Linked DNA regions of Homo sapiens: region 2 is linked to region 1. Evidence: fine-mapped expression QTL. A gene starts in region 1. The other region holds a variant in brackets. All regions are shown on one strand. Distances are between the middles of the regions. Region 1 holds the start of NABP1 (nucleic acid binding protein 1). Region 2 has its middle 110 kb from the start of NABP1.

What was found. PIP is the estimated chance that this variant, and not a neighbour inherited with it, causes the effect. A credible set is the group of variants that fine-mapping cannot tell apart.
Region 2: its variant is the best candidate, but not a certain one, in a credible set for the expression of NABP1 in whole blood (TOPMed, PIP 0.68).

The regions. Positions count from the first base shown.
Region 1 is chr2:191,674,690-191,680,025 of GRCh38, reverse strand. It overlaps NABP1 (nucleic acid binding protein 1), which reads right to left and starts at 1,890. Exons shown (of 6, transcript NM_001031716.5): 1 at 1,321-1,890; 2 at 898-1,036. The coding sequence starts at 1,411. RefSeq lists enhancers at 1-719, 1,547-2,049, 2,259-2,338, 3,932-4,041 and silencers at 1,189-1,248, 1,849-2,198, 3,989-4,283.
Region 2 is chr2:191,568,602-191,573,977 of GRCh38, reverse strand. No RefSeq gene overlaps it. Among named protein-coding and RNA genes, the nearest start is that of NABP1, 110 kb to the left of the region's middle. The variant G/A (reference allele first, on the strand shown) is at 2,437.

The sequences.
Region 1 (5,336 bases):
GTATCCCTTTGGTTTTTGCGCAACATCCACCTTACAGCAGAAGACACAAGAAATCATTTTGGAGAATGAGCCTTCCAGATACTGTAAAGTTTCCCTCTTTTTCCAAGTACAAATTTGACATATCACAGAATATGCTAAATCCTTTACCTATAATTTTCATTTATGTCCACATTTCTAAATAACATATGTAAAATACTGGCCAGGATTTCAAGTCATTAAAAATGGAGAAGGGGTGGGAAACAACTGAGTGGCAACTACACTAGAGAAAACAACTTATAAAAAAGAAAAAATATGGACTATACCAGTCTCCTAAAAAGACTCACTGACTCAGAATAGAACTAAAAATCTATGCCGGGCGTGGTGGCTCACGCCTGTAATCCCAGCACTTTGGGAGGTTGGGGCGCGCGGATCACTTGAGGTCAGGAGTTGGAGACCAGCCTGGGCAACACTCTGAAACCCCGTCTCTGCTAAAAATACAAAACTTAGCTGGGCGTGGTGGCACACGCCTGTAGTCCCAGCTACTTGGGAGGCTGAGGCACGAGAATCTCTTGAACCCGCGAGGCGGAGGCTGCAGTGAGGAGAGATCACGCCACTGCACTCCAGCTTGGCGACAGAGCGAGACTCGGTCCCAAAAAATAATAATAATTAAAAATCTACTTAACCTGTAAACCGGGGTAGAGGCGCGGATTTCCCAGCTGAAACCGACTGCCTTTCACTGCAAAGGTCTGTTACATCCCAGCGCTGCCCACCACCCAAAGTTAACACCAAAGGAGTTCAAAACTCCTCAAGAGTGGCCCACAGAAAAGGCGGGGGACTTCAGGGCTTGCCAAGATCCCAGGAGCCGGCCAATCCCGATTCTGCAGACTGTTAGGTCCCCCGACTTTTTTGCACACCTACCCTCTGGTCAACCGAATAATATCCCCTGGCTGTATAAGACCTCCGATCTCATCCCACACGGAAATAGTGATGCTGCCCGTTTTATCTGCTACTTTGCACGATCTCACTTCATGGCCGTCTTTGGTTTTGGTCACGCGTCCTGTGAGGATTTAAAAATCAAAGGGAGGGGTTGTTAGATAATGAGGACATCCAGAAAGGCTAACTCCTCCTCCGGTATTTTAATACATCTGGAAGGTGGGAAGTGACCAAGCCCAGGGCTCCCGCCTCAGGTAGGATCCGATCTCGGGCGGAGGCCACTAGAGCCACGTGGGTGGGGGAGGGGAGGGAGGAGGAGGGGAGCCCCGGGCGCGCAGCGGCCGGCGCCCCTGTCTCCCGCCCCGGGAGGCACAGCGGGCGGTGGAGTAGGCTGCAAACCCCACTTACCTATCTCCAGGACAATAAAGACGACATTTAAGTTTTTCAGTCCGGGCTTAATATCTCTTATAAAAATAAGTGGGTCGTTGACCCTATTCATATTGGGACAGGCGCGGCTACGGCTGCGGAGACGCGAGTGGGCAGGGCGGGGTCAAAGCTTCCCACCCTCCCGGGACAGGGGCGAAGGCAGAGGGGCGACCTTGGGCAGGGGTGGCGAGAGAAGGGGCAGAAAGCCGTTAGTCAGGGACCGGGCAAACCAGCCCGGACAGCACTGAGCCTAAAAAAAGAAAAAAAAAAAAAAAAAAAAAAAAGGCTCACAAGTTCTAAAGAAAAAAAGGCGAACCACTCCGCACACCAACCCCGCTCCCAACCGGGCGACAGGAAGGCAAGCGTACTAACTGCCCCGTTCTTTGGATAAAAGGAAAAAAAAACGCAGTGAGGGGACACTTCTGCCCTGAGTCCCGCTCACTCACACGGGCGCGCGCCCAGCCTGTCCCGGGCTCCGGGAAGGAACGGGCTGTGACAGCGAAACGGGAGCGGAGACAGAACACCGCACACCCAGCGTCCCAAACAGCGACTGATGAACACGCCCGCGCGCCGGCAGGACCCTCGGCCCGCCCCTCCCCTTGTGAAGTCACGCTGCGTCGGCACGCCTGCTGCCACGCCCGCCTGGTGCTGGGGAGGGGAAGCAAAGGGGCGGGACCCGGCCGCCGCAGCCCGCAGAGCTTCCCTCGCTCCTCCCCGGGGGCTGTCAGCGCGGGCTCCGCCCCCTCGTCCTTCCAATCGCTCTCGGCCCCGCCTCCCCCGCCCTCCCGTTCTCCACCCACTTCAGCTGTCGCCGCGCAGCAGCAGTTCTGTTCGGTTTCGCCTTCCTGCTGTGCAGTCTTTTGACGCTTGCTGTCCAACTTTGGAGTTTTCTTGCCTTTTTTTCTCTCAGAGTTGAGCCCCTGCCCGGGCCCTTTAGTCCCTCGGTCACGAGGAACGGTAGAGTTTAGAACCTGTGAGTACGTTAGAAAGTTCGCAGTCGAGGAAGAACAGGGTTCGGGCAAGGGCAGCTGGTCCGGTACCAAGGGAAAACAGGCTGGGATGGTGAAGGCGTCAGTGGCTACAAGGCTGGAAGTTTAGCACCAGAAGGGAATTTGGAGATCAATTCAACCGCCTCATTTCAGGCATACTTAAATTGAAACCCAGAAAGATGAGGTAATTTGCAGAAGGTCACCCAGCAACCCCTGAGCAGGCAGGACTGCAACACAAATGTCTGACGTGGGCTTCCACTGTGTAATGCTAAGCAGATAGGACGTAAATTCCTTTGCAGACTTCTCATTTTTCCTTACCCCCTGCCTCTCATATTACACACCTTCCCCATTTAGCTTTTCTTCTTTTACTTTGCACTTGCTTTTGTACATCTAAAAGGAATTAATTATTCAACAGCAGTGGGAACCCTTGAAACATAATCTGGAAAAAAAGATTAATAAAGTTTTTTTTATGTCGCGTAGTGAAAAGAGCATGTGCTTTAGAGACAAACCTGGGCTCCAGCTATTTACTTGTGAGAGCTTTAGGTCAATTGGCTTTTATTACAGCTTTTTAACCATAATAAAATGGGGATCCCTGCCTAGCAGAAGATTGATTAAATGGATCATAAATTGTCCAACTAGTGCCTAGCAAATAGTACATACTCAGTATTTTCCCCTTTTTAATCCCCGTTTTACAGGCGATGGAACTCACCAGAGACCAGATAGCTAGAGAATGGCTGAGCTGGGTTTTAAATCTAGTCAATCTTGACCCCAGAGCTCTCCAGCCTAAAGGTAATGTTTAGACTTAACTTCCAGTGGTGTCATTATAAGAGTCAAAAACAGACTGAAGAAATAAAATAGCAGAATAAAGTAGTGGGGCATTAAAGAATCATCTAGTTAATTCTTGGTGATGATAACAGAAATGTTGGGAAAAGTGTCAGAAGCCTTAATTTTCTCCCCATTCTTTCTGAGTATCTTTAGATCAACCACCACTTCCCAAGTATTTGCAAACAAGCAGCATAGATATTATAGCCCTAGAAAGAGTTGGAAACATTATCACAACATTAGCAAGAGAGTCAAGGCATTTTTAAGGAAACAGAAGCTTCCATTTCATGAACTAATAAAGCCCAAGGTGCCAAAGACACTGATGTCATACTGGAAAGTGGTGTAAAATAAAATTATAAGCATAATTTCAACATCAAATAAAACAAATGATGAAACATGCCAGTTAATGGCAGAGCCAGCGTCCAACCTCAATCCCAATCCAGCTCAGAAGCTCTAATTCTACCATGGTTATCTGGCAGGACTTGACACTTCAATTGGATTGTACTCAAAGCTGTATTTTCTTAAACAGGCAAAATATTCTCACAGAAGCAATATTTAAGGCAGAGCTCTTTTTTTTTTTTTTTAAGGTTTGACAAGATCTTCAAAAGATTAAGAATAGACAGGAAACCAATTAAGAATGTTAAGAGTTACGGCCAAGAGTTTGGGCAAAGAAAGTTTGCCACTCAACTCTCAATCATTTGCCCCCAGAAAAGGGATTAGGTTGGGCTGTTCAGGCTAATTATATGAACATTTTATAAAAAGAAATCAGACACAGAAAATCAAGCCCCACAAAAGCAGAAGCTGGTACTCCAAGCTGTGGCTCAGCCCTTCCCTTCCCCCACAGGACAGAACTCAGCTGAACATCTACTTCCTTCCCTACTAACTCAGCAGTTCTCAGAAAGGAAATGGCAACCATATGCTTTCTCATTAACCAAAACGAAAGGCAGCCTTGAGAAACAAGATGGTCTGGGCAATACAGAAACTGTTCAGCCCAGGCTAGTTGGTTTCAGCTACCTCTAAATCACTCCCAAAGATGTGGTTAATAAAAAGAAAAAGGAGATGTCAAGGAGACAATTATTGCTAGGCAGATATCTTTTCTTATATTACCATTCAGTGAAATAGATCTGCCACTCAGTCTACTCATTTAGGTCATAATGATTATATTGCTGATTCTTTAATACATACACAAGATTACTTCATGGTCTTCTTTTCTCTAAGGCTGTTGTTCTTCAAGCCTTCATTTTTCACAGCCTAAACATAAGCTTACTCTGAGATGATGGACTCTTCCACTTTACATCCAGAACCTCAACACCATGTTTTAGTGTAAAGATGCTTAGTGAGATCCACTGTAATACAGAAGGGCATCCATTAGAATCCTGGACATAGAAGGTTCTGTTATCTGGGTCCTCATTGATAAAGGTTTTGTTGTAAATTTTACCCAGCACTCAGTACCCATGCTCACTCCCAGGTTTTGGTTTCTGGAATTACCAAAATTATTTTCACTTTGTTTTCACTATCCATCTATTTAAAACTATTACAACATCAATGAAACAGTTGTTTGTACCAAGTACTGTTTGATTTTAAATATCTTGTATAGTGAAACTTAACAATTTAAAAAATTAACAAGAACCACAGTGTGCTCACTCACCTTACAGGTATAATCCACTTTGTAACATAATTGGCAACTAAAAAAACAAAAAAAAAAAACTCAAACAAATAGTATTTTCTTAATTTCCCTAAAACAATTTAACCAAAAGACTCAGAAGTAATGTTTAGTAATGATTGCAGCAACAGCCACACAAATCATCCCTATAGTGATAAATGCAAATACACTGAGCACTTGCTATGGGCCAGGCATTTTACACTTATAAGCACTTTACACTATTTTGGGTTTTGTTTTTGTATTGGAGACAAGGTCTCACTCTGTCACCCACCCGGGCTGGATGCAGTGGCTGCACCATAGCTCACTGTAATCTGGAACTCCTCTGCTAAAGTGATCCTCCAGGTTCAGCCTCCCAAGTAGCTGGGACTACAGGTGTGCACCACCACGCCTTAGCTAATTGTTTTATTTTGTGTAGAGATGGAATCACACTGTGTTGCTCAGGCTGGTCTCAAACTCCTGAGCTCATGCGATCCTCCCGTCTCAGTCACCCAAAGTGCTGGGATTACAGGCATGAGCCACCAGAC
Region 2 (5,376 bases), 110 kb after region 1:
AAAGAACTCCATTGCTCTGTGGGATTAACCAGATTAAACCCTGAGCTGACTGATTGGAAGGAGACGTCAACAAAGGCTTTCGGGCAGAGACAGCAATAATTCCATCTGTAAGATTGATAAATAGTTGTTCAGTACCTAGAGGAATGTTTTTGAATTATTCTGAGCTTTAATGCCTACAAAAAAATAATTCTCTTTCCACTAAGGCAGGTGCCCATTGGCAGATGTTCCAGCAACTGTACCACTCTACAAAGTATAGAGATCCAGTCTCCTGGGGCTAATGAGGTTATTGATTCCTAAGAACTATCTGGCTTCAGGCAAACTACCTACTCCCAGAGACTGAAATCTATGCCAGTGTGAATATTGTAGTCTGTTTTCCCACTGGTGTACTGCAATTTCAATAGTCTTAACCTACAATGTAGGAATTTAACAAATACCATATCAATGGGTTGCTAATTATGGATTATAGGCAACGGTGCCAAGAATAAACTCCTTAAACCTTCCCCAAGCACTAGGATGCTTCAGAATTTCCCTTGATGGCTGTTTACACACTTTTAGAGTCTAACACTTTACCTCTTCCTCTCAATATGATTCATCTCCACCCTGACACTATAATAATAAGACTAAAAATATTACAGCATATCAAATTTGGAGAGAGGCAGTGAGAAAATCTGGAGAACTTTCCACTCAAAGTTTCTTCTGTTAATATCTATCACAGCTTCTCATTACCTGAGAACAGAAATCACAATGAATGTTTCTGCCTTTAAGAAGTGCAATAAATAAACTGTATTGTAAAAAAGACAGTTTTTTTGTGATTATATACAATTTGGGTGAGTATAGAAATAGGCCATTGAGGAGCATGTATATGTGCATAAACATAGAAATACATTTTGGCAAAATTAAGTTGCATTGTCACAGAAGTGTGACCATAAAGTAATAAGATTAGTTTCCTTGTCAAACTTGTGGAAATCATTTGTCATTCTGTATATGTATGTATTCTATAATTGTGTTTCAAATGTAGCAACCCTTAAGTACCTGGTCTCACAAATACATTGGAGTCTCTTCTCAATTCCACTTTCACCCAGTTAGATTTATGACTCTCATAAATGATCCAAAGATTCGGGCTCCATGATTACAATGGACACAAAGAGAAATTAGGTAGACATGAGGCATTAGGGCAAAACACATAGGCCCACCCTAATTGAGTAGGCAGCTACCACTCTCCATTCTAATAAGCCAGTTTCAGTTGTACTAGAAAAGTCCTCTTGTCAATAGGAGAAGTCCCAAATTTTCCATCATCTGCATGCCTGACACCCGCATGGCCGACATGCCTTTAACTACCATTTATGGACCAGGTACTTTATATACCTAATCTCTAGTCCCTATAGCCACTCACAAATGTGCATATTACTATCATCGTTACTATTTGACACATGAGAAAATAGACTCATAAAGGTTAAATGACTCGCCTAAGGGCCCACAAGTGATAAGTAGATGAACACAGATTAGAACTTCTAATTACCAATCTTCTGTCTTATTTCCAAGCCTTGTGACTCAAAGACAAAGCTTGTCATTGCCACAATTAATGTTCAAATGCAAACGTAGACAGCATAGGATAATAAGACTCTGTGTCACTCACACTAAGGATCCAATGAGGAGAGCAATGGAGCCCCCATACCTGGTAAGAGTGGGGAAAGAAAAGGTTTCAAAGAAGTGAGTCTGAGGGTCCTAGGGACACAGTGTGCCTTCTCACAATTCTACCCAGGGTGGGGCGACTGAATTCTCAAAGCCTTGTCTTATTTTATCTCATGAGGCAAAAGCTCACTTTCATTCTAGGGCTTCAAAGGTAGCCAGCACATTTGAATTACCCAATTTGTCATAAAAATATTGTTAGGAAAATGCCCAAACTATCAAAGATGAATTAAATTTTTCTGGCAGCTTGAGTTGGACTCATGTCTCTTCTTTCATTTGATATGTTACTGCTTGGTTTTTCATGATCTTGATATCCTTGCTTAGAAACAACATTCTCAGACACCAGGTATCAAGTAAGGGTTCAGGCCCCACTGCCTGAGTTCAAATTTTCAGAGTTTGGAGGAAGGCAGCCCAAGGGTCACTGGAATTATAATAACTTAAGGGAAAAAAAAAAAATATATATATATATATATACCAAGTTAGGCTTATGGCTTCCTCCCTAACTACCCAATGGAAAGAGATAGGGAGTAAGATAACTAGATGACATTTTTGGTCATTGTTGTTCCTAAAGGTCAACGTTTCTTCAGCTCTGGTTAAATTTTCAGCATTCTTACTTCTGCATGTTCTGTCCAGCCCCTCCTATTCCTATAATTTTGAGGAAGTCACTGAGGGAAAGTGCTGACTCATAAAATTAGTGACTGGAAGCCAGTAAGTGACAGCACTTACAGGCAAGTTTGTATTAAAAAT[G/A]TAATGATGTCAAGAAATTTCTCCAGGGACTTTGGCTTTTTATTGAAGTAAACTCATTTTCCCAGGTCTCACTTTGTTGCTTTTCATATTTGCAACTTTAATGACCAGAAAAAAAACCCCACAAAAAACCCAAAACGAAACAAAACAAAACAAAAACAAGCAGAGGAAGAAAGAAGGGAGGAGAGAGGGGGTGGGGAGAGAGAGTAAGAGAAAGAAATACGTGCATTAAAGAAAGGATTTGTTATCAGTACCCTCTTCTGGAAACACAAGAATGTAGCCTGGAATCGAGCTGTGGCATTTCTTTGATGAGAAAACAAAGAGATTTACGCTAGCAGACAGCGTCAGGCTTCCATGTGTCTGATGTTATTTGGGGTTGACATAATGTAGTAGAAAGAGCCCTAAACTTAGAAATCAAAAATTGTGGATTTAAATCCAGCCTTTGCTCCTAACCTTCTACGACCTCAATATTTAAATAATTCGGTGTTTTAAGTATAGTAGACCATATATCTGGATTAGAATCACCAGAGGCTGTTGCTAAAACTGCAGAATCCCAGGATTCACTCCACCATCAGAATCAAACGGCAGGAATAGGTATGAATCTCAATTTTAAACAATTTCCAGGGAAATTCTTAAGTAGTGTTCTGGCTTCAGTTACCTAATCTGTAGGTAGATAACTACAGATAACTGATGATTTTCTTAGATTAAGTGACCTATAATGCCCCTTACACATCTAACGCTTCGTGATCTTATAAAACAAAACAGAAGGAATGATTCCTCAATGGATTAACAAACTGTGATGGATCCATACAGTGGATTAATCCTCAGGAGTAAAAAGGAATGAATTATTGATACATGCAGCCACATGCATGAATCTCAAAATATTTATGCTAGGTGAAAGAAATCAGACAAGAAAAGATGATTTCATTTTCATAAAATCCTAGAAACCGCAGAGTAATCTATAGTCACAGAAAGCAGACTGGGGATGGGGCAAAAAGAAGGAGGTCTTACAAAGGGGGCAACTATGAAACTTTCGGGGTGAAGGAAATGTTCATTATCTTGACTGAGGTGGCGGTTTCCTGGGTAAGCACATATGTCAAAACTTGTGAAACCACACACTAAATCTCTGCCGTTTACTATAAATCACTTACCCCAATAAAGTTGAAAAAGAAAGAAAAGAAAAAGAAAAGAAAAGAAAGAAGGAAGGAAGGAAGGAAGGAAGGAAGGAAGGAAGGAAGGAAGGAAGGAAGGAAGGAAGGAAGGAAAGAAAGAAAGAAAGAAAAAGAGAAAGAAAGAAAGAAAGAAAGAAAGAAAGAAAGAAAGAAAGAAAGAAAGAGAAAGAAAGAAAGAAAAAGGAAGGAAGGAAGGAAGGAAAAGAAAGAAAGAAGGGAAGAAAGGAAGAAAGAAAGAGAAAAGAAAAGAGAAAAAAGAAAGGGAAGGAAGGAAGGAAGGAAGGAAATAGACTAGGATCTTGGGGAAGTTTGGATATCCATCTTCCTGGATATCCAAAAAGATTTCCTGTCTACCTATAATAGACAGGAATCTGTCCTGAGTTAGAGGACAGGAAGAGTGAGGGTCCCTGGACTGAGAGCAGGGAGCATTTGTTAAACAGGGGAGGATCTGCAGGCATCCTAAATCGCTCCACTTCAAAGGCCAGAAAAGTAATTTGGAAGCTGTAAGAGCAGAGCTTGTGCAGTGGTCTGCGTGAGCTACAAGCCAGAAGCTTCTGCCTGCTGCCCAATCCATCCACAGCATTGTGGATACTCCCCACCTGTCTCCCTGTTTTGTTGCAGAGGTGGGTAGTGCCTGGATAAGTCCTCACGCTCATCACATTCAGCTCAGGCTGGCATCAGGGCTTTTGAGGCTGTATCATTGGTAAGGCAGTGTCTGTTTAAAATTACCTTGCTAGGCCAGGCACGGTAGCTCACGCTTGTAATCCCAGCACTTTGGGAGGCTGAGGTGGGAGGTTCACTTGAAGCCAAGAGTTCAAGACCAGTCTGGTCAACAGAATGAGACCCCCATCTCTACAAAAAAACAAAAACAAAAATAAAAATAAATTAGCTGGGCATGGTTGTACACACATGTAGTCCCAGCTTCTCAGGAGGCTGAAGCGGGAGGATCAATTGAGCCCAAGAATTCAAGGCTGCGGTGGGCTGTGAGGGCTCCACTGCACTCCAGCCTGGGCAACAGAGCAAGAGCCCATCTCTTAAAAAAATACATATATATTACCTTGCTAGCCCAGAGGAGTCTCGAACTGGAGTCAAGTTGAGGACTTGCTCCAGGATCTTCCAGAATAATGTTCCCAGCTCCCCACTGCCACCTCAGCTGAAACTGGGATTGCAGTCTGTATCCATACACTCCCTTCTCTTATCCTCCCCTCTCCCCCTCCCACAGAGCCCACTTTCTGAGCTCTGAGCTCTGCTTTCTGCAGGCTTGAAAGAACTTTACTGGAAGCTCTGGCAGAAAGTTAAATTGAATAAAGATCAAAGTTAATAAATTTCCTGGTAAACCCACAGATGGTCCACTTTAAAGGCAATAGTCCCATTCACTTCTGATTAAAATAAAAATTGTCTATAAAGAAACTCCCTAGAACAAAGTTGAATGATGGAACCATATTAAGAGAGCAGTTCATTACCCTTAAGTGAAAAATGCACAAAGTCATCATTCAGAGGCAGTAATGGAGTGGTGATGGTAAAGAGGTAATTAAACCTACATTTAGCTGAACAATTTGGGAAATCCTCCAGGGCACTAGAAATAGAATAGTCTCCCCAAAATACATACTATCTTCAGGCTACCTAGATGATCAGATTGGTGTCACATTTTATGCATAGGTCCAGTTACCTTTCAGTATCAGAGTGCAAACATTAGAAGCAAGTTCTGCCTATGGTCACTAGTTTGGTTTCTTTGTTTTTGGAGAAAGCATTTACTTGTATCCATTTCCTC